Linked DNA regions of Homo sapiens. The protein of the gene in region 3 purifies or fractionates together with the protein of the main gene of each other region. This does not show direct contact. Each region holds a gene or a part of one and is shown on either strand. Other genes may lie near its edges.

Evidence for each region.
Region 1: the proteins of DDI1 (region 3) and NRIP3 purify together in Homo sapiens (affinity purification with mass spectrometry; 4 studies listed by BioGRID and IntAct, with this or other methods). This does not show direct contact.
Region 2: the proteins of DDI1 (region 3) and USP47 purify together in Homo sapiens (affinity purification with mass spectrometry; 3 studies listed by BioGRID and IntAct, with this or other methods). This does not show direct contact.
Region 4: the proteins of DDI1 (region 3) and RSC1A1 purify together in Homo sapiens (affinity purification with mass spectrometry; 3 studies listed by BioGRID and IntAct, with this or other methods). This does not show direct contact.

Annotation. Positions count from the first base shown.
Region 1 is NC_000011.10:9,000,853-9,008,301, reverse strand, and holds the start of NRIP3 (nuclear receptor-interacting protein 3), read left to right. Parts: upstream 1-4,300; 5' UTR 4,301-4,366; coding exon 4,367-4,540; intron 4,541-5,706; exon of another isoform or gene 5,707-6,387; intron 6,388-7,449.
Region 2 is NC_000011.10:11,949,691-11,956,971, forward strand, and holds part of USP47 (ubiquitin carboxyl-terminal hydrolase 47), read left to right. Parts: intron 1-198; coding exon 199-314; intron 315-673; coding exon 674-792; intron 793-3,050; coding exon 3,051-3,181; intron 3,182-5,206; coding exon 5,207-5,254; intron 5,255-5,343; coding exon 5,344-5,474; intron 5,475-6,310; coding exon 6,311-6,485; 3' UTR 6,486-7,281. UniProt on the Homo sapiens protein: Ubiquitin-specific protease that specifically deubiquitinates monoubiquitinated DNA polymerase beta (POLB), stabilizing POLB thereby playing a role in base-excision repair (BER). Acts as a regulator of cell growth and genome integrity.
Region 3 is NC_000011.10:104,032,644-104,039,823, forward strand, and holds DDI1 (protein DDI1 homolog 1), read left to right. Parts: upstream 1-3,996; 5' UTR 3,997-4,179; coding exon 4,180-5,370; 3' UTR 5,371-6,553; downstream 6,554-7,180. UniProt on the Homo sapiens protein: Probable aspartic protease. Seems to act as a proteasomal shuttle which links the proteasome and replication fork proteins like RTF2. Required, with DDI2, for cellular survival following replication stress.
Region 4 is NC_000001.11:15,654,703-15,662,726, reverse strand, and holds RSC1A1 (regulatory solute carrier protein family 1 member 1), read right to left. Parts: upstream 3,015-8,024; 5' UTR 2,859-3,014; coding exon 1,005-2,858; 3' UTR 694-1,004; downstream 1-693. Other genes in the region: DDI2 (protein DDI1 homolog 2), read right to left, coding at 6,094-6,110. UniProt on the Homo sapiens protein: Mediates transcriptional and post-transcriptional regulation of SLC5A1. Inhibits a dynamin and PKC-dependent exocytotic pathway of SLC5A1. Also involved in transcriptional regulation of SLC22A2.

The DNA.
Region 1 (7,449 bases), about 95 Mb from region 3:
TCTTGAGGTCATGGTGATGTTGGCAATCACTCTGAAGGAAGAGGACAGAAATATCTCTTATCTTTGCTTTAACTGCCAAAGCAGACACAGTTTTTAGAGCTGGGTGCCAAGTCAGGGGTACCATGTAGCCAGAGATCCTGGCACACATCTGGATAGCTGTTCGAAGAATCTTCCTGCCAAAGGGGGTTGGGGTAGTGGTGAGGACATCTGAGGAGGAAAGGGATCCTACAGCTATAAGGATGGGGTGGTGCATGATGAGGGTCCTAGGAGTGGCCATTCTGACTTCAGGGTATGGCCAAGGGCAATATGCATGGGTAGGGAGGGAATGGGGAGGAAAATTTCTTGGCAGTCTCCCCTTTATCCTCTGCTCTTCTCCTCTACTTTTTAGGCCTCCAAGCCTCAGCACTCATCCTGTTTCTCATTCTTAAAGGCCTCTCTGTTAGCTGAAGACCCAAAAGAGGGTTGCTAGGAGAATAGGTTGTAAGCCTAGAGTCACAAATAGCCATCAGACAGGAAGGGTCTGCCTACAGGGGCATCAGCTCAGAGGAAAGCAGAGCTGAAACACAGTGATAATGTCATTTGAGTCTTTGGATCCAGCCATGCCTGAAGCCCTGCACTTTTAAATTAAGGGGACCAAAAATTTGCATTTTCACATAAGAAATTTTCAACTGGGTATCTGTCACTTATAAGAAGAATAACGTGAATAGCATTCTAACACTGAAACAGTACTGGATTTTCTAGTATGATTTTCAAGTACAGGTCTTCTATAACAGCCAAGGGAGGATGCAGAGAACTTTAGGATAGAGCCATTGCACATGGAAAGTCCAGAATCTGGAGACACTGAGGAGAGGAAGAGAGCTGGCCAGCCCCTGCCTCAGCAGGCCTCTGCTCTAGGGATAGGGTAAGATACTCAAGTCTGGCTTCATGTCTGAAGCTCTGTAGGGAAGCCTGGAGAAAGGATAGGCCAGCCCCAATTCGAGGGTTCTGCAACCTACAGTTTTTCCTGAAGTTGTTCCAGGTAATGATGGTTGCTACCTTCTGCTGAGCCTATGCTACATGACCAATGTATTACACTGTCTATCGTTTTATTTCTCACAGCAGCCCTGAGAAGTAGAGATATTGGCACAATTTTCTAGATGAAGAACTGAAAGCTCACAATGGTGCAGTAACTAACTAGTCACATAGCTAGTAAGCAGCAGAGCAGGGATTCAAATCTAGTGTATTAGACTCCAAAACCTGTGTTTTTAACAACCATATTGTATGTTACTTCCTCCAAGATGGGTCAATGAGGCAGGGGACGTTGATTGGCTATATGGAGAATTAATAATAATCTTTTCTGTTGGTACAGCCCTAGAGAGTTTACAAAGCACAATTGTATATGCAGTCTCACTACATCCATTTTACAGATATGGAAACTGAGGCTCAGAGGTAGGAAGTGATTTACTCAAAGTCATTTGGGCAAACAGGATAAACCACCCAGAGATAACTCTCCTTAAATTAAGCAGGCAGTCTGTAGTCTGCGAATACTCATAATGTGTGGGGGGAGGAAGGAGCTGGCCTCACCACACTGAACCTTGAGGGCAGTGATGGTATCAGTCTGTCCAAGGAAGGTCTCAGACAGGTGAGGGGACCAACAGGTATTGCAGCCACAGACCCAACTGCAGAACACAAATCCCACTACACCAAAGGGCTCTGAATTCACAAAAAGATTCCCAGTTCCAGTCGGGCACCATTTATTTTTCAGCAACACTTGATATGGGCAAATTCCAGTTCAACTAGAGAGATTCAGCTTCCTGGTGTTCCCAGGGGGATCTAGCTCTGAAAAGAGCCCCTTTCTTCTGTCAGGACATCCTCAGCAAAAAAGGCTGCAGGTCTGAGCTGAGCAGCCTGGAGAGTGGGGATTCCAACTCCCCCCGAGAGTGTCTACCTGCCTGGCTTCCTCCCTGAGGAAAGTCACTGTCCCAGCCCAAGCCCTAGGGGCCCTCACTGTTGGACCTGCCCTGATGCTTTGCCAAACTCAGAGGCACCTCTCCTAGACGGACAAGGCAAAGCTGACTTTCACTGTTCCCTGGGTGATCTGCACCTGGAGGAGTGATCAGGCAGGGATCCAGGTGATGGGACAGAAGGGGCCAGGGCAGCCACTGTTGTTCACTGCTGGAAGTGTGCCAGGGGACTGGAAGGTGAACAGCAATCCCACCTGTCTCCTAGAGACTCTGTCCTCCGTGTGTAGGGGAAAGTAGGGGATGGGCACACAGGGAGGAATCCAGCCCTGGGGCTTCCTTGAAGCCAAGTGAGCAGCCTTCTGTATTTGTTTTCCCACAAACAGTCTTTGAAACTGGGGCAAGTGTTGAAGGCAGAACAGAGTAAAAGAAGCAGCTTCATGAGGCCAAACCCAGTCTCTCCAGGTCTAGGTAGTCCAGCACAGGTTCTGGGAGTAAATGCCAGCTTTACCACTTGATTTCTTTGGTACGACCTTAACTTTTTGCCATCCTTTCACTAGTATTTGAGAACCCTCTGCATATTAGGGCATCAATGCTAAGCAAAAAATGGGTTCAGTCACCTTCCTGGAGGTTCCAATCAGTGGAGGAGACAAATATTAATCCAACAACCAGTACCCCCCTACCCCTACCCCCACAGAAAGTGTCAAATGCCCAAGAGATAGATAGTATATAATTAGAGAGACTTCACTCTCTCTGGAAGGTCAGAGAAGGCTTTCCTAAAGAAATGATAATGGAGCTGAGGTCTGGAAGAAGCATAGGAGTTTCCTGAAGAGGGTAGGAGGGGGCACTGCACACAGAGGGAACAGGACAGTCAAAGGCAGGCCATTTGGCAACAGGTGACTGGAAGGAACTGGAAGAAGGCCCATGAGGCTGAAGTACAGAGTGAATATGCAGGGTCTAGGCAGACCATGCAAGAATGTGGGTTTCTCCTAAGAGCAATAGGAAGCCTTTTGAGGTGCTCTTAGCAGGGAAGTGAGATGATCACACTTATCGTTTGAGAAGATTACTCTGGCAGCACAGTGAACAACGTATTGGAATGGAACCAAGGAGCATTCAGGAGGCCAGACAGAAGGTATCAGGTATTTGCCTGTAAAATGGGGGTGATGAGAATACTATCTTACAAGCTGTTGCCAGGATCCAATGAGATACTGCATTTTAAGTGTCTAGTCTAGTACCTGGCACATAGTAAAGGCTCAGTAAGCGTCGATATTGTTACTTTTATCATTGGTTCTTTGCAGAGTGCACATATTTCTTATCCAGGTCTGCTCCTGCGTGATGGGGTGGAGGGAGTAGTTGTGGTTTCCAGAGTGAAAACGTGATTTGTGTCAAATCACAATGTCGAGACCAGAATCCAGGATGCCTGAAGGCCCGATTAGAATGGCTTAAAAGTATGGATTATTCAGGAAGAAAAACGGGTTCCAATCGCTCCTACTAAGGACGCTGGAGGGATGGTGAACGATCCTTTAGATGGTAAGCCCTAGCACTTATTGAGAAAAACAGGTGCTTCTTTGGTCGGAGAGCAGGTGTAGGGCTCGCAGCCGCGTGCGCTCCCGCGGAGGCGGGGGACCCTCGCCACTCCCCCGCCCCACGCCCACCCGCGGGCTTCCGACTGCACCTGCTCCCCCGGCTCGGAAACGCGGGCCGGGTGCCGGGCTGCAGGCAGAGGGTGCCCGGGGGAGGAGGTCCCGAAAGCCTCCTCCACACGCCTGCACCGGCTGCCCCCTCCCCAGTCACGTGGCCCGGTGGGTGGGGACCGACCTGAAGTTGGAGAAATCCGGAGCGCTCCCAACCTCGGAGGGAGTCGCCAGTCCTCCGGGCCCGGGCGGTGGACCCTGGAGCCCCGGCTGGCGGCGTGGAGGTGCGTTTCTGAGAAGCCGAGCAGCGGCGCGGGCGGCGGGACTCGAGGCATGGCCCGGCTGTCGGTGATCCCCGGGTCGGCCACGGCGTGGACAGGTGAGCAGGTACCCGCGGCCAGCGGCAGAGATGGCCGGGGCTGCCAGGGCATCGGGCCCCAGAGCCCACGCCAGTCCAGGGGATGCGGGGCCCCCACGCAGGAGGGGGCGGTTGGGTGAAAAGGCCGCGGTGGATTCTCGGACTGCCGGGTCAGTCCCCACCAGCGCCGCCGCCTCCTCGCCGGCTTTGCCACCGGGTGAGCAGGGGACGCGGGACGCGGGACGCGGGACGCGAGGGAGCCGCGCGGGGCGTGGACTCTGTGCCGGCCCCGCCCCCCGCGCGCGCACTGGCTGCTCCCCGCGACGTCACGCTCGGCTATAAAAGGCGCGGCTCGGGGCCCTTGCGGCGCTGGAGGAGCTCGAGGCTGAGGCTGCCGGGGGGCTGTGGGCTACCGGGCCGCCGGCGCCTCAGCGATGTTTTACTCAGGGCTCCTCACTGAGGGCGGCCGCAAGGAGACCGACATGCGGGAGGCGGCGTCACTGCGACAGCAGCGCCGGATGAAGCAGGCGGTGCAGTTCATCCACAAGGACTCCGCCGACCTGCTGCCCCTGGACGGCCTCAAGAAGCTGGGCTCGTCCAAGGACATGGTGAGCCCCCGCCGCCGTTCTCGCCCCGGCCCCGGCGGCTTCGCGCCCGCCGTTTTCCGAGGCCCGGCCGTTGCGGCTTTCACTGAGTCACGGCCCGGCCCGCCGCTGCCCTTGGCTCGCGGTCGCTGCGTCGCGGATTCCTCCCCTTCCAGTACCCCTGCTGCGGTTTCGGTGGGGATTCCGTCGTAGCTTTTCTAGCTTGCGCTCCCCTCGGCTGTGCCTCCTCCCTGGATGTCTCTTCTCCAGTAGAAAGAAGAGGTCCTGCCCTGCCCTCTTGCCCTCGGGTCTTCTTTCTTTTTCCTTATTCTTAATACCGAATTTTGTTCACGGGGCTTGTGCCTCCTATGCTGTGTGGCTGTTCCTATGACCCAGACAGAGGTGATTCCTAATGGCTTTCCGTGAGGGGGAAAGAAGTGGAAAGAGGGTTTTTTGACAGTTGCCAGATCCAGAGGACTTCTGTTGAATCCATTGTCCCCCTATGCAAAACCCACTTCTCTAGTTTTGGTCCTAACTTTGACCTTCCATCCTGAGTGGGGAGAGAGAAAAGGGGCCAAATGTGAAGGTTTCCTGAACCCCCAACATCTCTTCATCATTCTCCTCTTCCAGCCCCGCCCCCAAGGAGTGGGTAGAGGGAGGAAGCCAGGCTGCTGCATCTCACCGACCAGCTAATGTGTGCATCTGGAGCTGGGGTGGGTGCAGTCTTTTTTTCTAGCACAGTTGTTCCTGGCATTAAGTAGAAGCACCTCAGGACAGGGGGCCTGGGGTCAAAGATGGTACTGTCCTCTTTCTATAGAATGGGATGGATGGCTAAGGGTTACCAATATAAAGAACTGTATTTGTCATCCCTCAGCCACTGTAGTGGTCCTGGGCCAAGTTTATGTTTAACTTTGTAGTTTTATCTGGAGTTTTCTTGTAGTTTGATTGTTTTCTTGAATTTCACAATCGCTTTATTCATTTGGGTGGTAATATGTGAAACACTAATTAAATGTCTTTTAACAAATGAAATAGGTGCTCTGCATAATTTTTCTAGTATTTTTTATTTTAAGCTTTTGAAATATTTAATTTTGGATGTGGTTGTCGGCCCTAGTTCACTGAAATTGCCATTTCTGGCCCCAGGAGGGCAGAGCTTCTGCATCCATTTCCTTTTTTTTTTTTTTTTTTTTTTAATTTAACAGCTCTAATGATACACAGGTACATTATATTATACACAGTATAATATAATATACAAAAATTTTTCTCCTCCCTGCCATTAGTTACTTCTGTGCAGAGTTTGTCTACTTCAGTTATCTTGCTCTGTTTTTTTTACAAGTTGTGTTTTTTTGTTTTGTTTTGCTTTTTGCACAACCCACAGGATAGTTTATCTGATTTATGCTAACCCAGAGTGATAAGTGATTGAAATGTGCTCCTGCAAAAGAGATAACTCTCTTTTCCCTTCTTTCACTTTAAAGCAATCTCGATTCATTTAACAAATCAGGTTCGAGAAGTATTCTTTCCTTCAGGCCAAATAATCCTATCCTAGTTCCTAGAATGCTCAGCAATCAATAAAGAAGGAAGTATTATATTAAGAGAAGAATTAAAATACAGAGTTTTTAAATGCTGGATTTGGTTGTCCCTCGTTGTCGAGGAGTTTCCTAGCCCTGAGAGCTACCTGAACTTCCTTCTGCCTAGGATTTCTTATACTACTTCATGCTGTGTAAGAATTCCATCCGCTTTTCTGACTCTAGTCTGTCTCAGTTGAGTCACAAAGGGCTGATAGCATACAGCACAGGCAGCAGGCTGCAAAGAGGAAGGAGCCTCAAGAAGCAGGATATTGCCTTGAGTATGACACATACACATGACAGTTGACTGTAAGGCTCTGAATCATGGTTCACGCTTTCTGTGCCCCACCGTCATGGAGTTGATTTCCCTCTCTCACTGTTTTCACACCTATAATGTACAAGTGATTGCACAGAACAGCCAGGTTACAGAAACCAAGGCAGACCGAGGTAGGGCTAGGAGAGCCGCAAGCGCTGGGGTGAGGCAGCATGCTTAAACTCTCTTGGAACTGTTGTTGCAGCCTTAGTACAATCTTAGAAGTGACCTTAGAAGTACATTATTATTCTTTTACTTTATAAATACATGTGGGATAGACCAGTGTTGACTCAATTTTCTCTCACTGCAAGGGAAATTTGGAGGATGTTAAAATTAATTGAATAGTTCTTACTTGGAGTAGTTTATAGTATAATCTCGATAGAAGGAGTCCAAGAAAAGGGAGAGGATAGCATCAGAGGGAGATAAGGAAGAGAGAGGAGAAATTAGTTGTTATTGACTTTTGGGTTTGTGAAGATTGTAGGTTGTTTTTCCTCATACCAGCAACCTATATTTGAATATACCGCTGGGATTTCTGAATTATCTACCTCTTACTATGCTGTTTCTGTAATGTTCACTGCTTGATACCAGCCTGCCAGCTCTTTTAGGACTGGCAGAAGGCAACCATAGGAAATCAAAGGGGGTCATGTTCTCTTGGCCCCAGGAAAGTGCCTTTGCCTATTCCTGTGTATCTGGAGTTGGCTGATACAAAGTCTTCTGTGGAAATTATATTTTTGTCTGCCCCTTTTGCTTTTATCCTTTTATCTTGTATTGTTCATTCTGTATTAGATTAAGAACTAAAACCAGAGATATGAGTGAGTAATATTATATTTGATTTTTTTTTTAAGAGACGGGTTCTCACTCTATTGCCCAGGCTGGAATGCAGCTGCAGTCACATCTTACTGCAGCCTCGACCTCGCAGGCTCAAGAGATCCTCCCACCTCAACCTCCTGAGTAGCTAGGATTACAGGTGCACACCACAACACCAATCTAACTTTTGTATTTTTTGTAGAGATGGGATTTTGCCATATTGCCCAGGCTGGTCTTGAACTCCTGGTCTC
Region 2 (7,281 bases), about 92 Mb from region 3:
CAGAGATTTTAAGTAAACTTGCCCAAGATAGCTGAGCTCATAAATAGTGGAGCTAAGGTTTCAAAAAAGGAAGATAGACTCTGAAACTCAGGCCCTTAATTGCAAATAAAATGTTTTGGTAATTTTTATTTTAATGTGTTAATATTAATGTACTTAAGGTATAATTCAAGCTCTGATTGTTTATGTTTATATTTCTAGCCATGCAAGTTTCTGCTAGATGCTGTGTTTGCTAAAGGAATGACTGTACGGCAATCAAAAGAGGAATTAATTCCTCAGCTCAGGGAGCAATGTGGTTTAGAGCTCAGTATTGACAGGTAAAGTAAAATTAATGTCATCAGCGATTTGAAGAAAGACTATGTGGTCAGTTGAAATGGACTGGTATGATTTTCTAAAACTAGGAGAATTAAAATTTCCTGTGCTATTCAGAATTTTAGTATGACAGATTAGTTTAATAGGACTAAACAAGAGTATTAAAATTTTGTTTGGATTTCCTATACAGAATTCTAAATTTGAATTACTGGAAACATTTCTTTATTTCCCCAGATTTTAACAACTCATTATTTGACTTTTGTATTTGAACATAGTTCATTTTTCTTTGGTGTCAGATTAGTGTCAATCTTTAAATTGAGAGTTTCAAATTATAGTCGTTTTAAATGTCTTATCACATTTGTAGGTTTCGTCTAAGGAAAAAAACATGGAAGAATCCTGGCACTGTCTTTTTGGATTATCATATTTATGAAGAAGATATTAATATTTCCAGCAACTGGGAGGTTTTCCTTGAAGTTCTTGATGGTATTTTCAATATTTTTGGGGGGAAGTATCAGTTAGAAATACTCTAGAACTAATAGAAGCCTATAGTTTTTAATCAAATAATGAGTTACGAGGAATCTAATATACATTATAGTGTTTTGTGTTATATTAAGCATAACGATATCCTTATTATGGATTGATGTGATTCCTACCTACGTCTTATCCTTGGGAGTTTTATTTTCTTCCCCTGTGTCCTAATGTAACTGCTTAAGTTGTTTTTGAAAGAATAATCAGTGTCTTTCAGCCTTCTGCTATCTTTCTCTGGTTCCCATTTGCCTTTTAAGTATTCTTTTTTTGAATGTTGAGAATATTAATTCCCCCTTATGAGGAAATTACAAAGTTAGGTTTTTAATACATTTTAAGAAAACTCTGCTAATATTTTCTTAGCCACGTTTGTTCTTTAGTTTCTTTTTTACTATTATGGCTTATTTTGTATTGAAGACATGGTACTGATAATTTATCAGAGACTCAAGAACAATGACTATTTGTGTCCTAAGCCAGGTGGCTTAAAGAATAGAAGTGTATTGTCTCACAATCTGAGATCAGGCTGTCAACAGGGTTGGTTCCTTCTGAGTGCTGTGGGGGAGAATCTGTTCCATACTCTCTCCTAGCTTCTGTGGTTTTTGGCCATCATTGGCAACCTTGGCTTGTAGATACATCACCCCAGTCTCTGCCTTCATCTTCATGTGGTGTTCTTTCTGTGGGCTTGTCTGTCTGTATTGTTTTCCCCTTTTTCATAAACCACTAGTCCTATTGTATTAGGGCCCACCCTGAAGACCTTATTTTACTTTGAGTATCACTGGAAAGACCCTATTTCCAAATAAGGTCACATTCTGAGGTACTAGGGATTAGGATTTCAAAATGTCTTTTTGTGGGGGGCACAATTCAACCCATAGCAGTGACCTTGAGGAGGTCCAAGTAGCAGACATACTTGTCACACCTCCCAGTTTTCGTTATCAACATTGGCACATTTAAAGTATTGGTGTTTGGAGGGAGGCTTATAGGAGGAAAGTTGGCTTTTAGAAGATCACATCAAGGTAAACAACTAGTTCTATATTCTTTTTTTGCTGTTGCTTAGGAAAATTTTAATTTTCCTTTTCTTCTGTAGAAAGTAAAATATGAATTCTGGATATTTTGTTACAAGATTATCCTAGTTTTTAGAGAGCTCAATAATACTAACACCTCATGTATTTCAGGCTGCTTCAGGTCTAATTCAACCATAAATTTAAATGGTTGAAATTCTGATTAATTGACAAGTTAAGTTGGGAGGTAAGGAACAACTAGGATACCATCTACTATGGTGTGTAGGCAAGTGCTCCAGATTGTGATTTCTTTGAGTATCTGGGGTCGTAGGGAATAATCACTGTGCCTGGGTAAGTCAGGAAGAGATCATAAATGACAAAGAAGTCACCCTTGTAAGGATTGAGTATGTATTAGCAGAGATGGATTCATCTGAAAATGGTACTAGATGGTGGGTGCCTGCATCAGTATTATTTCAGTATATTTTCACATCAAGATAGTTGAGTAAGAAATGTCATGTGATTAAATCCAAGAGGTATTTATTGACCTGTAATTTGCCAGACACTGCTAATCCCTTGTGCTACAAAAATGAGTAAGAACCACTTATTGGTGCACACAGTCTGTGGAAGAAACAGAACTGCAAACCTGTCATTCTAAAATAATAGGTACTAAGGGACTGAATCAGTAGAAGTTCTTCTTGTGTACACCAGAGAAAAGTGACAATTGAGTTGATGCTTGAAAAGTGACAATTGAGTTGATGCTTGAAAAGTGACATAATGGAAAAGTGACAATTTTGAAGAATCACTAAATTGGGGAGTAAATGGAAAGAGAAGGATTAATAATAGCTTTAGTGAAAAAAGAGGATAAAGTGAAGTTGATTTGTTTATGATTTTAGATAGGGATAGGAGCCAATAGAGAAACAAAGATTGGAAATCCAGAGAAGAGAGTAATTGGTAATGCAGTGTTCAACAGGAGTCAGGAGGGAGTGGAATTAGGAGTACTGGTTTGAAGAAGAGAGGAATTATCTTCTGAGACTGGAGAGAAGAGAGTAAATATTTCATTCTCAAAAACTCCTTGGGATAATTGGGTTTTTTCTTGTGCCCACTTTTTAAGAGTAACACTTGAAGTAAATCTTTTTGTTTAGTAAGGCACTAAGGGAAAAGTCAAATTATGAACCTTCAGAGGAAATAGAATGATGACCTAATCTTGCATATTCTTAGGGGTAGAGAAGATGAAGTCCATGTCACAGCTTGCAGTTTTGTCAAGACGGTGGAAGCCTTCAGAGATGAAGTTGGATCCCTTCCAGGAGGTTGTATTGGAAAGCAGTAGTGTGGACGAATTGCGAGAGAAGGTAAGTTCATTTTAAACAAAACATGTATCTTATGTTGTATATGTATATCATAATATTAATAAAATATATAATATATAAACAATACATTCTTCCTGTGTTGCGTAAGAGAAAACCTAGGAAGTAGTACCAAACACTGGTGCAGCAACCTTTCTTTTTGGTTTCTGTCACACCTTGTGGCACACTCTGGTTGTTCAGGCTCCTGATTCTTTGAAAAATTACTTTGGCTCCTGGCCATTCAGAAGTGGATCCTCACTTTCTGTTACTTGGACCAATTTTGTCCTAAGTAGTTAGAATTAGTTAGAAGTTACTAGAGTGAATTGCTTTATGTCTAAAAAAAACCAAATGAAGTCGAATTGTGTAGAGAATCCAGATGAAGGTCTGTTTTGCATTTTAAGATGGGATATCTAAGGATCTCTGGGGAAAGGGTGAATTAGTCAATCTGTGGTACTAGCACAATGAGCATTTTGAAAAAGATTTATTTCCATACTTCATACTAAACACAAAAATAAATTCTAAATGTATTAAGTTTATATATAAAAAAAGTAAATGTACTAGGTGAAAATATGTAAAATATTAAATACTAAAAATATTTTCATATTCCTGGAAAAAGATATTTGTAAGCATAATACCAGAAGCCAAAAAAAGAAACTATAGACCACGTAAAAACCTATCCTCTGCATAGCCAAAGAAAAAGGTATTTAAAAAGCAACTCATAAACAAAGCTAAAAGACAATAAACTAGGAGGAAATTATTTGAAGCAGTTATTAAACATGCTGTCCATAATTTATAAGGAGCTACTACCTTAATAAGAAAAAGACGGAACAAATCTAATTTTAAGAAAGACAGCATGAATAGGCAATTTATAGAAAAAGAAATACAAATTAAAGAATAACGTTATTTTTCACTCTTAAATTGGTGAAGATTTAGAAAATCAAAAAATACCTAGAGTTCTCAAGGTTTAGGGGATACAGACAATATATACCTTTGATAAGTGTATAAATTGATATGATTTTTTTCAAGTTCAGTTGGCATCATTTGTCAGTATTTCGGATTTGCAATTAAACATCTGGGAATTCGATCTGTAGAAGTATTTGCAGGTTGGGTGCCATGGCTCACTCCTGTAATCCCAGCACTTTGGGAGGTTGAGGTGGGCAGATCACTTGAGTTCAGGAGTTCGAGACCAGCCTGGCCAACATGGTGAAACCCTGTGTCTACTAAAAATACAAAAATTAGCCAAGTGTGGTGGTGCATGCCTGTAATTTTAGCTACTCAGGAGGCTGAAGCTGGAGAACTGCTTGAACCCAGGAGGTGGAGGTTGCAGTGAACCAAGATTGCACCACTGCACTCCAGTCTAGGTGATGGAGTGAGACTCTGTCTCAAGAAAAAAGAATTTATTTATTTATGTATTTATTTTTGAGACGGAGTTTCACTCTTATTGCCCTGGCTGGAATGCAGTGGTGCGATCTTGGCTCACTGCAGCCTCCGCCTCCCGGGTTCAAGTGATTCTCCTGGTTCAGCCTCCCGAGTAGCTGGGACTACAAGCACATGCCACCACGCCCGGCTAATTCTTTGTATTTTTAGTTGAGACGGGGTTTCACCATGTGCGAGGATATTCATGGAAGTATACAGTAGAGCTTTGTAACTTGGAAAAACTGAAAACAGTCTCAGTGTCCATCAGTAGGAGATAAAATGTATATTGTTCGGTTATTGAAGAGAATGTGGTCACTTTGTATCCTATTCCTCTAGGAACAGAATTATTATATAGAGATATTAATCTGATTTTACATGTTTTAGAAACGTGGGTGTAGTTTGTGTATGCATAGGAAAAGGTCTGGAAGGAATATACTAACTTGGTATTTCTGGGACATGGTATTTGCAGGGTGGCCGCTTTCTGCTTTTTCTTAATTTTTTTACATGAAACATTTTTTAAACTGAGCTATTTCTGTTTGTGGGGTAAAAGGAAAATAACTTTTCTAAGCAAGTTAATTTTTTAAATGAACTCAAATAAAATGTTTTATTTTACAGCTTAGTGAAATCAGTGGGATTCCTTTGGATGATATTGAATTTGCTAAGGTAAAGCCCTGAGAATGTTGCATCTGTGTATTGTGCATGATAAACACAGCTAGTGGCATGATTTATTCATTCATTCTTTTTCTTTTTAGGGTAGAGGAACATTTCCCTGTGATATTTCTGTCCTTGATATTCATCAGGATTTAGACTGGAATCCTAAAGTTTCTACCCTGAATGTCTGGCCTCTTTATATCTGTGATGATGGTGCGGTCATATTTTATAGGTAACATTCACAATGTTTTTGTTGCTGTTAGTAATACATTTTTGGCGTGCATACATATCTTATTTTCCATAAATATCTTTACTGTTTTTATGATATGGAGCGGCACTAACCGGTAGAAATACAGTGACAGCCAAACATGATTATAATTTGAAGTTTTCTAGTAGCCACATTAAAAACAATAAAAAGAAACAGGTGAAATTAATTTTAAAAATATTGTAAACCCAATATATCCAAAATATGATCATTACATGTCATCAGTATAAAAAATCATTTGTATTTTGCATTTTTTTATTGTACTGAGTCTTAGAAATATTGTATGTCTGTTATATTTCCAGCACATCTCAATTTGAACCAGGCATATTTCACAAGCTCAATAGCCACATGTGGCTAATGGCTGTTGTATTGGACAGCACAGATGTAGAGGAAAAAGAATAGTCATTGGAGCCTCACAAATCTGGGTTCAAAACTAGCTTTCTGATTTACCTAGCTCCTCATCTATAAAATTGCAACAATGATGTCTACCTTGCAGGATTTTATGAGAATTAGAGCTGTTGCATGTAAAATAACTGGCACAGTGCCTATTATAGATGTTCAATAATGATAGCTGTTACTACTGCTAATAACATGGAAGTTATTCTCCGCCACTTTTAGAAGTAAGCAATATGTTCCTGTGATTAACACCTTAGAAATCTGGGACATCTCAGTATATAAAATAATATTACTTCACCAGTAACAGATTTCATTATCTTGCTGAGGAGCATCATAGCATTCAAGCATACATTAATAGAGGTGGAGGGCTCTACTGGACTAATATGTGATTAATATTTTATATGTAGGGATAAAACAGAAGAATTAATGGAATTGACAGATGAGCAAAGAAATGAACTGATGAAAAAAGAAAGCAGTCGACTCCAGAAGACTGGACATCGTGTAACATACTCACCTCGTAAAGAGAAAGCACTAAAAATATATCTGGATGGAGCACCAAATAAAGATCTGACTCAAGACTGACTCTGATAGTGTAGCATTTTCCCTGGGGGAGTTTTGGTTTTAATTAGATGGTTCACTACCACTGGGTAGTGCCATTTTGGCCGGACATGGTTGGGGTAACCCAGTGACACCAGCACTGATTGGACTGCCCTACACCAATCAGAAGCTCAGTGCCCAATGGGCCACTGTTTTGACTCGGAATCATGTTGTGCACTATAGTCAAATGTACTGTAAAGTGAAAAGGGATGTGCAAAAAAATAAAAAAAAACAACAAAAAAAGCTAACCTTCTATTAGAAAAGGGGACAGGGGAATGAGTAAACTTCTTTTATTGCGGACAAATGTGCACATAGCCGCTAGTAAAACTAGCCTCAAACAGGATGCTCATAGCTTAATAATAAAAGCTGTGCAAAGGCCATGAATGAATGAATTTTCTGTTTATTTCACTGATGCACACATTACCTCATTGACAATTCAGAAGTAAATCCAACGTGTGTTGACTCTTGGAAAGCAGCAAAAACAGGAGCTGAAGAAAAGAAATTCTTGGAACCAGCCGTAACCCAGTAAGGAATTGTGAAGTTGTGTTTTTATTTTGTTTCATTTTTTGCAGAGTATTAAGAACATTATTCTGGAACATCAGAACGTTTCCCTTAGACCGATCCCAGCAGGTGGCAGCTCAGATTGCTGCAGTGTTGTAATTATAACTGATTGTACTTAAGTTATGGATGTAGAGAATATGTTTCATTCATTTATTCAGCATGTAAATAAAATTGATCCTGTTGAGTTATCATAATTGCAGTTCAACTATCTGCCATGATT
Region 3 (7,180 bases):
ATTTTTTTCTTTTTTTTTTTTGCTACATTTTTAGAAAGAGGCAAATTACAAAAGGTATTGTGGATTTATTAAAAAAATAACTTTGGGGTTATTTACTTGGTTAGTATGAAATCAGTACCATCTCTTCTGTTTTCTGGGCATTTAGGCCATACAATTAGAATTGATTTCTGAGTGATAGCCTGGAGACTCTGCAGGAATCTCACTTATCAAAAAAAATTTAATTATATTCTTATATTGTACTTACTAAGGGAGAAAAGTAAGGGAGTATACTTCACAAAGAATTCCTCAAGAAAAGTTTTGATAACCTCAGTTACTTAGATTTACATACCTCAATAATTCAGATAACCCATTTCTCAACAGACTACATGATAGGGATTTACGGTATAACAACAGTTTATGTTTAGGGGTGTGTGTGTGTGTGTGTGTGTGTGTAATATATTTTATATATATATATATTTCCAATTACCTCCAAGTTCATTATACAGTCAGAAGAGGTTTTCATTTAAAATTCTGAGTTGGGACAATTATACATATGGTATTTGAATCACAAATCATGCTGGGTAAAATGAAAGAATCAAATGATGTATACACAGAAGTACTAAACACAGGAGGCTGTGTTTACCTTTACAGATTCCAGGCTGTTTTGCAACAGATATAAGGGGTGGATGGGTGGCTGGACTATGGAATCCAAGGGATCCCTGCCAACCCTGACATCCTGTGACCAATGAAATGATGACAGCTCATTGGCCAGACCTTGAGGCTTTTTGCTTTCCAGTGTCTGTTCTCAGTAAAAGGTAAAATGCTGAAAAACAAATAAATGTAAAGTGCCACCCAAAGTAAAAAAATTACAGTGAGATAATAAAACACATCACATAGAATTTAAATATGTTCAGTATGAAGGCAATGGTATAGAAAAAAAGATGTTAGTTTCTTTTCATGTGAACTCACAATTTTTGCTTTATGAAAAACAAAAGGAAGCTTATTCTACAAAAATAATTTCATTTGCTATTAAAAAAAACAAAAGCCCCAGTATAATCCTCCTCGCTATGGTTTTAAGAACAAATTGTACAAAGCTATTTGGGGAAAAAAGATAAAGGAAAACTGAATTAAAGTCTTACTGGTTTCTCAATCTGTTCTTTAGCAGAGTAGTTTGCATGTGACATCTCACATGATAATTGTTTCCAAACTCAGGGGAAAGCACTAGTAATCTCTGATAAACTTGTCAGGGTGCAAAGAACCATAACATAATATTATTGAGTCAAAGGGTCATTCATTCATCTGTAAAAATGGTGAAAATTACAATGCTAGATTTTTTTTCTTAAAATTAAAAAATAATCCTTATATGATGAAACACTGTCTTTCCAGTTGAAAGCTCTAAGTCAGGTCATCTTCCTTCTCACCTTTGTGTCTCCACTCTGGCGCACCCTGCATGGCTGACTCCTTGTCATCTTTCTAAACCCAGTTCTTTCAGGATGTCTTCTCTCCCCAACATCCCTCACCATCTTCTTCATCTCTTCTTCAGATATTATTAATTTCTCCTGAATACCACTACTGTGGTATTTTTTACCCTTCAATTTGTGTGTGTGCATGTGCTCTAATTTAGACTGTGAGCTCCTTTAAGAATACAGCCTATATTTAACATTATTCACGTCTGTTTCCCTAGAACTTAGCACATGCTTCACATACACTGGGCGTTCAGTCAACATTTCTAATATAAGCAAATATGAGTATAGAAACATTATGATAATTAGAGCAGTGAGCGAGACATAGTCTTCCATCTGAGACAAATACATGAGAAACAGGAGCCAAAAAATAATTATTTAGGCTGATGTGACTTCCTTCTCTCCATAATGGAATAATGGTGTAACAGTGCAGGCCTTCTAACAACCCTTCAAAGAAGGGGGTGAAACTAGGCAGAGGATATCGACTATCTTGGTTCATAAGTAGGTACACCTGGGAGTACCAAGCCAGGGAAACATGAGCTCTGCACAGTGCAAAACACTTTTTTTTTTTTTTTGAGATGGAGTCTCGCTCTGTCACCCAGGCTGGAGTGCACTGGCGCAATCTCGGCTTACTGCAAGCTCCACCTCCAAGGTTCATGCCATTCTCCTGCCTCAGCCTCCCGAGTAGCTGGGACTACAGGCGCCCACCACAACGCCTGGCTAATTTTTTGTATTTTTAGTAGAGACAGGGTTTCACCATGTTAGCCAGGATGGTCTCGATCTCCTGACCTCTTGATCCGCCCACCCTGGCCTCCCAAACTGCTGGGATTACAGGCATGAGCCACCGCGCCAGGCAGCAAAACACTTTATTAAACATAGAGAAAAATAACTGGCATGCAAGGATTTCTACCCAATCATCATTTGCCTTGAAGGACTTTTCACCATGACAGCCTTGTATGTGTGTGTGTGTAAGTGGGGGTGGGGGAGAGTAGGGAGAAGGTGGCTGTGCCCAAATGTCAGAGAGAGGCATATTGGCCTCTAGGGTGGCATCCTTAATGAATTTTCCTACAGAACTGATGTCAAATGGGTCACCTCAAAGGTTCATCTCACTCATTCATTCATTCCCCTTCAAGGCAATGGCCCATCTACCCTATATCCCATTTTAGAGACCCTCTGTGTTATCCACACATTCCACTTTTTTACACTCCCCACCTCCAAGGGGTATGCACACTCTGTCCATTTTACTCAAGAAACATGTTTATTCTCTACTGCTTTGGCTTTGGGCCTCCTGACTTTCCACACTCTAGCAACAGCTCCCTCTTTGAACCACTGGAAAAGCCTCCTGACTGGCCCTCCTGCCACATTATGTCCTCCATGTGTTGCAAGAAGCCTCTTCCTTAAGTCAATTTAAAAAAAAAAATCACAAACACCTGCTTCAAATCTTTTCCCTTTCCTTTCCTTCCTTACTTCTTTTTCTTTTTTTTTTTTTTTTTTTTTGGAGGAGGAATTCTTGCTAATTGATAATATTTAATATTTAAACTCCGTAGATTCACATATGACTTCATCAATTGGCTCAACTAATTTTTTTCCAGCTTCATATCCTGGTATTCAAAGTCATGTACAATTTTTTTATTGCACAAAATGTCTCATCTTTCTCTAGAAATAACAGCCCTTGCCATAAATTCCTGCTTTTGTAACATGAAACTGCTTTCCTTTGGAGTGAGACCACTTTGCACCTGGAAGATGCTCATCCTTCAACATCCAGCTTGTCTCCTCCTTAGGAAAATATCCTCTGTTCTGTTGGTGATACTAAAGGCAGTACCCTGAACATGTCTTTGTAAAAGATTTTGCCTTTAGTATTGTGATTACCCATTCACCTGTCTATCCCTTTCCAGAAATGTGAGCTCCTCAAGGGCAGGCTCCAAATCTGACTTTCCTACTATGCACATAGAATGGTACTTGCCATGTAAGAAACAAATCCTTACTGTTTGGGGAAAAAACAAAAGTACAAAGAATACAACTCTAAAATGAACAAAACAAATGATAATATGCTGTTTAGAAAGTGTTGAAAAACTAGGCATGGTGGCTCACACCTGTAATTCCAGCACTTTGGGAGGCCGAAGTGTGGGGGATTGCTTGAGCCCAGGAGTTGGAGGCCAGCCCGGACAACACAGTGAGACCCCAAATCTATTAAAAAAAAATACAACAATTAGCCGGGCATGGTAGACTGTGCCTGTAGTTCCAGCTTTTCAGGAGGCTGAGAGAGGAGGACTGCTTGAGCCTACGAGGTCGAGGCTACAGTGAGCTGTGATTATGCCACTGTACTCCAGCCTGGGTGACAGGATAAGATCCTGTCTCAAAAAAAAATGTGTTGAAATCATTTCTTTCATATCATGTGTTAAATAGGCTTTGAAGGGCTGGCCTTGAAACCTGACAGCTTTGAGCCATCGTGTATCCATGGGAGTAGGCATTCTAGGTTCCAAACAGCACACTTAGAAATGGACTTTGGAACACAACGTGCTACCTCAAGGCTCCACCTGGCCACACAGCAGGCACTGAGGCTGGGAGACAGCCCCCAGACAGATGAGTGTCCGCGCCTCTCTGAGAGGTGAATGAGCCCGGACGGTCCCTACCTACCAAGTCCTGAGGAGCAGCGGCACCAACGACGCAGGCCCGCCCCAGCCCGCCAGTGAGCCGCCCATGCCCTCTGCTAGCCCGGCCCGCCCGGGCCCCCGCCATGCTGATCACCGTGTACTGCGTGCGGAGGGACCTCTCCGAGGTCACCTTCTCTCTCCAGGTCAGCCCCGACTTTGAGCTCCGAAACTTCAAGGTCCTCTGCGAAGCGGAGTCCAGAGTCCCCGTCGAAGAGATCCAGATCATCCACATGGAGCGACTCCTCATCGAGGACCACTGTTCCCTGGGCTCCTACGGCCTCAAAGATGGCGATATCGTGGTTTTACTGCAGAAGGACAATGTGGGACCTCGGGCTCCAGGGCGTGCCCCGAACCAGCCTCGTGTAGACTTCAGTGGCATTGCGGTGCCTGGGACGTCCAGCTCCCGTCCACAGCACCCTGGACAGCAGCAGCAGCGCACACCCGCTGCCCAGCGGTCACAGGGCTTGGCGTCAGGAGAGAAGGTGGCCGGCCTGCAAGGTCTGGGCAGCCCCGCCCTGATCCGCAGCATGCTGCTCTCCAACCCCCACGATCTGTCCCTGCTCAAGGAACGCAACCCTCCCTTGGCGGAAGCCCTGCTCAGCGGAAGCCTTGAGACCTTTTCTCAGGTGCTGATGGAGCAGCAAAGGGAAAAGGCCTTGAGAGAGCAAGAGAGGCTTCGTCTCTACACAGCCGACCCACTGGATCGGGAAGCTCAGGCCAAAATAGAAGAGGAAATCCGGCAGCAAAACATTGAAGAAAACATGAATATAGCGATAGAAGAGGCCCCCGAGAGTTTTGGACAAGTGACGATGCTCTACATTAACTGCAAAGTGAATGGGCATCCTTTGAAGGCTTTTGTTGACTCGGGCGCCCAGATGACCATTATGAGCCAGGCTTGTGCCGAGCGATGTAACATCATGAGGCTGGTGGACCGACGGTGGGCTGGGGTTGCTAAAGGAGTGGGCACACAGAGAATTATTGGCCGTGTTCATCTAGCTCAGATTCAAATTGAAGGTGATTTCTTACAGTGCTCTTTCTCCATACTTGAGGATCAACCCATGGATATGCTTCTAGGCCTAGATATGCTCCGGAGACATCAATGTTCCATCGATTTGAAGAAAAATGTGCTGGTCATCGGCACCACTGGCACGCAGACTTATTTTCTTCCTGAGGGAGAGTTGCCCTTATGCTCTAGGATGGTAAGTGGGCAAGATGAGTCTTCGGACAAGGAAATTACACATTCAGTCATGGATTCAGGACGAAAAGAGCATTAAAGCACGTTATAAATATGTTACCACCTTGAGGGAGCCTCAGGTCCCCGGCAATTATAAGTTAAGAGCTTACTGGCAATGTAATCATTAAAAAACATCAGTAACAACTAAACCTGGCCTTGGGACTACGTTCTCAGATGGGTAACTAACGTCAATCCTGATTCCTTGGTCTTGGTCCCTCTTCCATTTCCCTTGTCCAGAGATCACTGAAAGGCATCCTGGGAAGGCTCTGGAGGCTCCAGCTGATTTCCAGATAATCCATGAAAAAGAAAACCAGCTTCTTCCTTTAGAGACACTATCCTATCAGATTACAGGTGGCTTATCCAAATCATTGCTATTTTGCAGAATTCCCTGGAAAAATGCTATGGCTGCAGACCTTACAAGGCATCCACATAAAACTATTTCACATCAGCACTAATAATTCTTTCTACTGAGAGAAATATGCCCATTTTCACAGGTTTTGTTTTCTTTGGGAAGGGTATTAGAAATGGTAGGTCAGTTACACTATGATGTTAACTAATACTTATACATGTCTGTTTGGGGCAGCATAAAGACCAATTTCCTCATATTTACACCTTCCCTTCCCCTGGATCCCCTGCAGTCACCCTGCAATCCACAGCTAAAGACTATTTTTGCCATATTTGAGAAAGTGGATTTATCTCCAAGGATGCTACATTAATTTTCTATTTCTCCTGCATTCAAAGAAACTCTGGCTATAAAACAAAGGCAATAAATTAGATTTTTTAAAAAAGAAATTATGGTACTTCTTGGGAGTCAAGTTGTACAGTGGTGGGAATGAGAGGTGGGGACAGGCAGTGGTCCAGGTTCTCTAATAGTCATTGCAACTAGATCATCTCTCTCTCTTTTTCAAAGTAAAAATCTGCTTTATACATTAAGCTGCTGCTACATCAGTATTGTTTGAACAAAGGTTTTCACTGTTAAAATAACATTTGAAAACTTTTGAATGAGAAGATCTCTAAGGCCTCATTCAGAATTATCCATTCTGACAATGTTAGTGTTTATTACAACTGACAGTGGGTAATGGAAGATCCTAGACTTAATTACAACCCATGGCTAAAGCACCTGAGAGAAAAGTTTCAGCTTCCTGAGGCCATCAGATGCAGGGGAAATGTTTCAGGACAATAATTTATCAAAACTAGTATTAAAACAGCGGATTCAAAATCAAGATGTGTATGTTTTGATTACACTTAATTACTTAGACAAATTAGTTCACCTACTTTACAACTGAGATTCCTCACCTAATAATTTTTTTTTTCCTGGGAGGGGTCACTTTTCAAGCACTAAAACCTCATTATCTTAAAGGATCTGGGATATCCTTTAAGTTATTCTATTTTCCCGACAAGATATAAAGCCACATAAAGCATTCCCAAAGGATACAGAAAAAAATAACTCTCCCTTATAATCTCCATATACTTTTTGTTTTGCTTCTTGGTAATACTAATCAACCTTTCTAAAGAGAGTCACCTCTTCCTTTCTAGCCACCATCAGTTCACCTCCCATTTTTCTTCTCTATAGGTGTTCCCATGCTCACATTTCCCAGTCTGGTCTACATTTGCACAAAGTTTTATACCCAGTAGAACTACTAAAAATGATCAAATGAACAGATTTCTTTCCTACTTTTGTTTGTAATTAAGAACTCAAAACAAATGCAATTAACAAAAAAAGACATTCAGAGTAAAGTCAGGGATAAGCAAAATGCTTATGAATAAATTTAAATTGCCCTGATAAATTCATGGATTATCTCACTGACAAAAATATGCAAAGTCCTCAGCATCTTCTGAATTCAATTTTA
Region 4 (8,024 bases), on a different chromosome or scaffold from region 3:
CACTCAGATCACAGCTCACACTGAGCGTTTGAAGAACTTCCTGGCAGAAGAGTCTAGAAAGGAAATAAGCTGCTGGCAATGAATCCATTCCTGAACTTAATTCCACCATTAGTCATTAAGGGTTGAGGTGTTATCAGTGAGATGCTAGCAAACCCAAACTCTAGCAAATTCCAGTGTTTAGGCCATTATTTTTCCCTCACAGTTCTTGACATCTGCAAATGGAATTATGGTTGTTCTGTTCTTTTAAGAATCTGGGTAGCACCACGTTTCACTTGCATTGTAACTCCCCCACAATATCCCATCCAATGTAATAAGGATTCATGGCAATCCATGCAGCAGCCTGTGATGCACAAAGTAGCCCAAGATTTAAACCCTCCTGCTCGCCCTATTAAAATGTCAAATCCTAAGCACACAAATAAAAACATACCACTCTACGATAAGATATTCAATTATTCTCCAATTTCCTGTTATAATTAATGAATCATGATACACAGAGCACTGGGTAGAATTCCAAACACCAAATTATGTGGTCAAAAGTTTCTAAATTGACAACTGAGCCAGCAAACCATACCTTGCCATCAGCACAGACACACAGTCACAGTGTGGAGAGTTCATCTGTTTTTAGCTGGATGGGTAGTGGGATTTCTCATGGCTTCTGCTTTTCAAAGCATTTACTCTCATTCTAAAACAGTATGCTACACACAAAACCATCCATTTTATTCCAGGATACATCTTAATGAGAATAAAAAGCTTCTGTATGCACATACTGCCAATACATTTAAAAAGGCCTAAATTTTAACAAGTAGGATAGACAAATTCATCAGACAAAAGATCATAAATTACTTTGGCCGAAAAAAATCTTTAAAAAAAATCTGGCTCAACATTCTGCTTGCAGGTTTCTATATATACTGTATATGTGGTGAGTGTGTATGTGTGCGTGTATATAGAGAGAGCTTTCTTTTGTTTAAAGGGAATGGAGAACGGTCTAGCCCACTTTCCCACAGTCATGTAGGAACTACGATGTTTTTTGCGAGCAAAACAAGAAGTGCAAGGTCTGCATTCCCACCAACTCGATGCAAAGCTCCAAGAGCTTCCTGCAAAGTAAAGCCAGCACGGAGAATGCGGTCAATATCTGTGGCAGGAAAAATCAATGGTGGAAGAATGGCAGGACTTGATGATGGATGGCTGGTAGGTGGTTCATATTCAAGTAATGGCCTCGAAGCATCAGGACAGACATTTTCTCTGGTTTCAGGCCTGTCTGTTACTGAATTCTGTATGCCCTGACCTAAGTCTTTAACCAATATGAAATTGGATGACAAAGACTTAGTTTGCTCAGAAGTCTGATTGAGTGCATCCTCCTCACCTGCTAAAAGTTTGGGTGAAATTTCTACACCTAAGGTGCAGTGTAACTGATTGGATGTTTTAGCTGAGGTTACAGTGACAGAACGGTTCTTATTTATGGATTCCCTAGATTTGGGGACACCTTCCTTATCGGTTGACAGGCCATCACCTAGACTCCTGAAGTTTACATTTTCTACAGCTTCTCTTCCAGTGTCAGATGAAGTACCTGTTAATTTTTCTGTCTCCACTGATACAGATATGGCCTGATGAAAGGAGACTTGTGGACACTGTTCATTCTGGGTAAGATGCTCATTTTGGGTCCATCTTTCAGAAAGGTCTTTAATACTGGTTTGGCCCTCAGCTATGGTTTCTGATTGACAGATTACTTCTTCAGATGTATTTTCTGAAGCTGGTTTACTGCTAACAACCAAAAGTTCATGAAGTTCTTTCAAGGCTGCCGTTATAGACGGGCAAGATTCTTCTGCTGACTCCACAGAAGGCTGACAACTGCCACAGAGACTTGGAGAGGAGTAATGGCCATATTCTTTATTTGTTCCAGGTATTTCAACATTAGTTTCTGGGGGCTGTAAATCCTGAGTGGAAATGGAATCATTCAAAATTTCAGATGAAGGGTTACATTTTGATGTTTCTACTTCCATCAAGGGATTATCTAAAGTGAGATCCAATGCACCAATGTTCTTGACATTGGCATTCTGCCTGCCTGTTGAATTAAGCAAAGTAACTAGGGACTGTTGAGCTGTATCGATTTCCATAAATGTTTCTGAATTTGAGCAGCCACTGCATTCTGAAGATGGAATACTTTTCTTCGCACTTGGAGGATCCACATTCTGTGGGAGCCCATTTCCTTTCATCGTAGCTTCCAAATCAACAATTTTGTGTTGATTCTGTTGCCTTTCTTCAGGAAGCTCAAGGTCCCCTATGTTACAAAGATATTCTTGGTCATGTGAAGCTTTTTGTTGTGCAACCTCATACTGTTCATTCCCTGGTTCTTCGTGCTGCTGAGGGTCACTCACTTGACTCAGGTTCTGATTTTCTGGATGCCAATCCTTTTCACCTAGAAACATCTGTGGTTCATGCATCCTAGTAGATGTGACAGATAAACTAGCTTCCTGTCTTGTATGGAGATGAAATTTGAGGCCCTGGGTGCTTCTTTCAGCAGATTTCTCCAGATTACCTGCAACAGTTATTTCTTCGGATGAATTCTGCATAGGCATAGCTGGACTCTGGTCTGTTGGAGCATGGTCTGCTGAGGAAGCATGATCAGAAAGATCTTGTAAAGAAAGATGTTCTTTCTTTTCAGAGTTTAGCTGGAATTCAGCTGAAGCCTTCAAAGCCTTCACAGCTTTAGGTTCAATGCGATCTGAGTCACTGGGCTTGATAGGGCAGACTGAAGCAGAGACAGAGCGAGCAAGACTCATAGGATTACCAACATCAGGACTCTGTCCTGAAGAACGGGCGGGATGGTTAAACCCATCTGAAGTTGGTAATGATGACATTCCCAGTGAGGTAGATTCTTTACCACTTTTCTCTATATGGAACACAGGGGAAAGGAAAAAGATTAATTAGCAGGTGACTAATGCCACTAAATTACCAGAGGATACAAATCTAAACAGCGTAGAATAAAATAAGGTCCTCAAACTCGGGTTTCTCTTACACAAATAGAAATGATTTTAAAATTACTTTCTCATTGTGGTAGACATTCACAGCATCAGAATAAGAGGTAGACATGTTCTTAATAAAATCTGCATACTGTAATTCAATGTGATTAAGTATCCATTAATATGCATTCACATAATGGCGGGGTTAGTGCTCAGGAATGAAGGACATTTATGTTTCTTTATTCCCTAGTCTAGTCTACAACTCTAGAATAGTTTCTCCAAGTGTACTTTTTTCACCACTTGCCCTAAAACCACCAGGGACGCTTGTGAAGTATGCAGACCCTGGGGTACCATACTTGAGAGTAAATCCAGGAATGTGCATTTTCAATAAGCTCCTTGGGTGATTCTTAAGGATATTACAAATCCTGAGAATCTTTGCACCAGAATGATTCTCATGTTAATGCACTTTTCTTGTTTCAAATGTGAACACTGAGGTTACAAATGAGAAGTCTTAAACCAGGTATACCTGGACAGAGAGGGAATTATAAAGAGAAATAAGAAATAACATAATGCTTGGGGACAGAGAAGCAAATGTTCTATTTTATTTCTAGCCAAGCTTTCCAAAAATCATGGTAAAACTGGGTGAGCATCTGACTCAGAAAACAAAAGTAAACTAATGATCAGCAGATTAAATCACAATCATCATCCTACCAAATAATACAACTCTAAACTTAAAAGGCTTATAAGTTTTTATCACATCAATAGTGTGCAACTAAGTTAAGAATATTTAAATGTTTTAAAGAAAGGGGAATGTGGAGGGAGATGGTTCATTAATAGTTTTTCAACTGGCAATGACTATTTAGATTCACTGCTACCTTAGACCACCCAAACAAGACGGCTCAGTGTAAGCATCATAGTATCATTAAACATCATTTCCAGCTCTTCTTTTGCCACCAATCCAGTTAAAAATTGACCTCTACGCATGTAAGTGTAAGAATTTTTTTTTTTTTTTAAGACTGTGTTTTGCTCTTGTTGCCCAGACAGGAGTACAATGGCGCCATCTGAGCTCACCGCAACCTCCGCCTCCCGGGTCCAAGCGATTCTCCTGCCTCAGAGTAGCTGGGATTACATGCATGCGCCACACACCCGACTAATTTTGCATTTTTAGTAGAGATGAGGTTTCTCCACGTTGGTCAGGGTGGTCTCAAACTCTTGACCTCAGGTGATCCGCCCGCCTCAGCCTCCCAAAGTGCTTGGATTACAGGCAAGAGCCACCGCACCCGACCATTGTAAGATCTTTAATTAAAAATCAAAAAGGGCTGGGCACAGTGGCTCATGCCTGTAATCCCAGCACTTTGGGAGGCCGAGGCAGGTGGATCACCTGAGGTCAGGAGTTCGAGACCAGCCTGGCCAACGTGGTGAAACCTCATCTCTACTAAAAATACAAAAATTAGCCAGGCGTGGTGGTGGGTGCCTGTAATCCCAGCTACTAGGTAGGCTGAGGTGGGAGAATTGCTTGAACCCAGGAGGGAGAGGTTGCAGTGAGCCAAGACTGCACCACTGCACTCCAGCCTGGGTGACAGAGTGAAACTCAGTCAAAATAAAAAATAATAATAATAAAAAATAAAAATCAAAAGGTCAGTAACAAAAATGACTTCAAAATACAATCTATTATTAGGACAGATGCAACTCAAATGCTCAGTACTAAATGTTAACATCCAACAAGAGGGCTTGATCTTAAAAAGCAGCAAAGCAGTTATATTCAAAAGGCTTTAAATCATTCTAATAAACTACTGGTTAACAGCATGAGAAGACAAAGCATTGTTTCAGGAAGCTATTGACTTCCCATGAAACAATCTTACCTTACTTACACTTTAGGAGTAAAAAGGAAAACTGCACTTATCTCAGTTTAGGCTATACCCATTAGAGTCTAGAAACACAGTTATTAGTTTTTTTATTTTCATACCACCAGATGTCTAACAGTTATTAGTTTTATTTAAAACTAAGGCTGACTCTGGAAGAGGTTGAATTTTGAACTAATGTTAACAGAAACAATGCACTGTAGTGAAATATCCATGTAAGCAACATAAAGAGGTATGGTAAGGGCCTTCTGGTATTTGTGTGTTAGTTATAAACAAGTGAGGTCAAGGTGAACACACCCTCAATGAATTTTGTACTAAAAAAGTAGCATATAGTCCTCTTGTAGCTGAGAAGGTCAGTTTCACTAGCCTAAGTCCTAAACGTAGGGGAGGACTAGGTCAGTTTACAGAATGACAGGAGAAGAGGATGAGGACAGTGGATATTAAGAATAATTCAACTATGCCTGCTTTTAACCTATCCTTACAAGGAAAAGAAAAAGGAAAGAAAGAAGAGAAACTAAATGCTATGTATCTAATTCCAACCAGCTTGCAAACTCCTACAAAGTCTTATGATGCTGGTTTAAAAGACCATCTTTCCTCCTCTTAGTAAGTCAGCCAATGTATTCGAGCTGATGTTTACCATTATTTACATCAGAGGAAATGGAAGCAGAGTGCTTCCTGAAAATCTGTCAGGCCAGAGACAGAAGGAAAAGCAAAGTCTTAGTTCCTGTTGTTCAGAGTCACCCCTGACAAGTCCTCTGGCCTAAGTTTCCATTTCTTCTTCAACAAAATTAAAATTTCTAACCCTCTATAACTCCAGGTAGTTGTATGCAGTAATGTAAAAGAACAGCTTTCAGTTTTTCAGAGGAAAGGCACTTATGAAACCCATGAAAGCATAGTTATCTCCAACAACAAAGTGTTGTGAGGCCAATATTCTTGATGTGATATTTATAGTAGCCAAGATGGGGTAGATATAATAGACACTGTTTTAACTGGGATTTTCTCCCTGTTGGATGGTTCTAATAACGAATCCATTTTTAAACAGGAGTTTATGTTACATATCCATGTATGCATGCCAAAATACAAATGCATATAGGCTAGTTGTAACCAGATTGAACAAGGTGAAATGGTGAATGACAAATGCTAACTTCCCAAACTGCTGCGGATACAGACTGTCAGATCACAGATGACAACTGGATGGAAGGCTTAACATGGTGTCTATAAATACCTGGTCTGGGGCCCACTCCAGCTGCAGTACACACACACTACATGCATCATGGCTTCTGACGCTCTGTGTGAATTAGGAAACAGACAAGCAAACTTGGGTTAACAATGCAAACCACACAGCATGCAGGGTTATAGTTTCCGTTCTTTTGCCATCTTTAAAATCAGGAACTGGTAGATTCCAAGTTGAGGGATGTTTCTGTAGTTTGGACATCCAAAATATTTGTTGGTTGCTTCCATTCTCTCACAATACACACAGCAATCTGTTAATTTCAACAGATTTTTAATAGATCTTGTAAAGAAATTAATTTTGTTTCTACACATAGAGAATTCACGGGCAAATGTGAGACAGGTGAAGAAAGTAGATCCACCTGATCGAATTAGGTGATTAAAAAAATCTTATGGAGTAAAGGTGAGTGAACATATCTAACAGTCCCTTTCCAAATTTCTTTCTCAGCTGAGATTCAATTTTAGAGGAAAACAAACCACTTAATTAAATTCTATCCTAGCTTATCTTTTCATCAGTTTTTAAATAATACATCAAGCTGAACACAGTGACTCTGGCCTGCAGTCCCAACACTTTGGGAGGTCCAGGAGGGAGAATCCCTTGAGGTCAGGAGTTCAAAATCAGCTGGGGCAACATAGTGAGACACCATCCCTACTATCAAAAACATGTTTTTTTTTTAAAACATTTTAATATAGAGTTTATAATAGAGTATAAAGTATTTAAAAAATAAGCTCTTTTTTTTGTTGTTTTTTTGAGACAGTGTCTCACTGTTGCCTAAGTTGGAGTGCAGTGGTGCAACCACAACTCACTGTAGCCTTGATCTCCCCAGGATCAAGTGATCTTTCCACCTCATCCTCCCAAGTAGCTGGACCACAGGTGCATGCCACCATGCCTGGCTAATTTTTTTTCTTTTTTTTTTTTTTTGAGAAGGAGTCTCACTCTGTTGCCCAGGCTGGAGTGCAGTGGTGCAATCTTGGCTCACTGCAACCTCTGCTTCCCGGCTTCAAGCAATTCTCCTGCCTCAGCCTCCCGAGTAGCTGGGATTACAGGCGCCCACAACCATGCCTGGCTAATTTTTGTATTTTTAGTAGAGATGAGGTTTCACCATGTTGGCCAGGCTGGTCTCAAATTTCTGACCTCAGGTGATCCACCCTTCCTCAGCCTCCCAAAGTGTTGGGATTACAGGCGTGAGTCACTGCGCCCAGCCGTGGTTTTTTTTTTTAGAAACAAGTGTTTTGCCATGCTGCCCAGGCTGGTCTCAAATCCATAGGTTCAAGTGATCTCCCCACCTCAGCCTCCCAAAGTGTTGGGACCACAGGCATGAGCCACCATGCTTGGCCAGAAAGAAGTTGTTAACAAAATACTTTCACCTACTATGTCCAGAGTATTTATTCGGATGATATTAGGAAGTCGATGTTCTAAATAAAAAGGACCTGATATGTAGAATTATTTCATTACTTAAACATTACAAAAATTAGCACAAGCTATACTACCAGCAACAAAAGGTTATTTAGGTAAAAAGCCATTTCTTTTTAATTCTTTGAAGTTGGTACATCCCCTTCACTAAGCCTGGAAACATATGTGTATCTGTTTTAATCTTCCAAACTTTTACTAAAATAAGGTAATTACCAAAAAAGGATAACTGTTATTAGTAGGTTAGAAAACACTGCTATTATCAGCTAATGTTTCTTAAATAATGGCACCAAGACTGTGGAGGTTAAAAGGAAAAAAAAAAAAAAGACATTTCATAAAATGATAATATATCCTCATATTAACACACAGCATCACGACTAAGATGATAAATTACACCCCAAATGCAAAACCTTGTAAGGAGCTATGTCAAATTCATTCAAGCTTACCTTGCAGGTAAGATTAAAACTATTAAGTTAGTCTCTGTCTGGTTGTTCAAAATTCCTCCCTTCCTACAAAATACTTAAGTTACAACCAAAACTGTAGTTAATATAAAAACTTGAG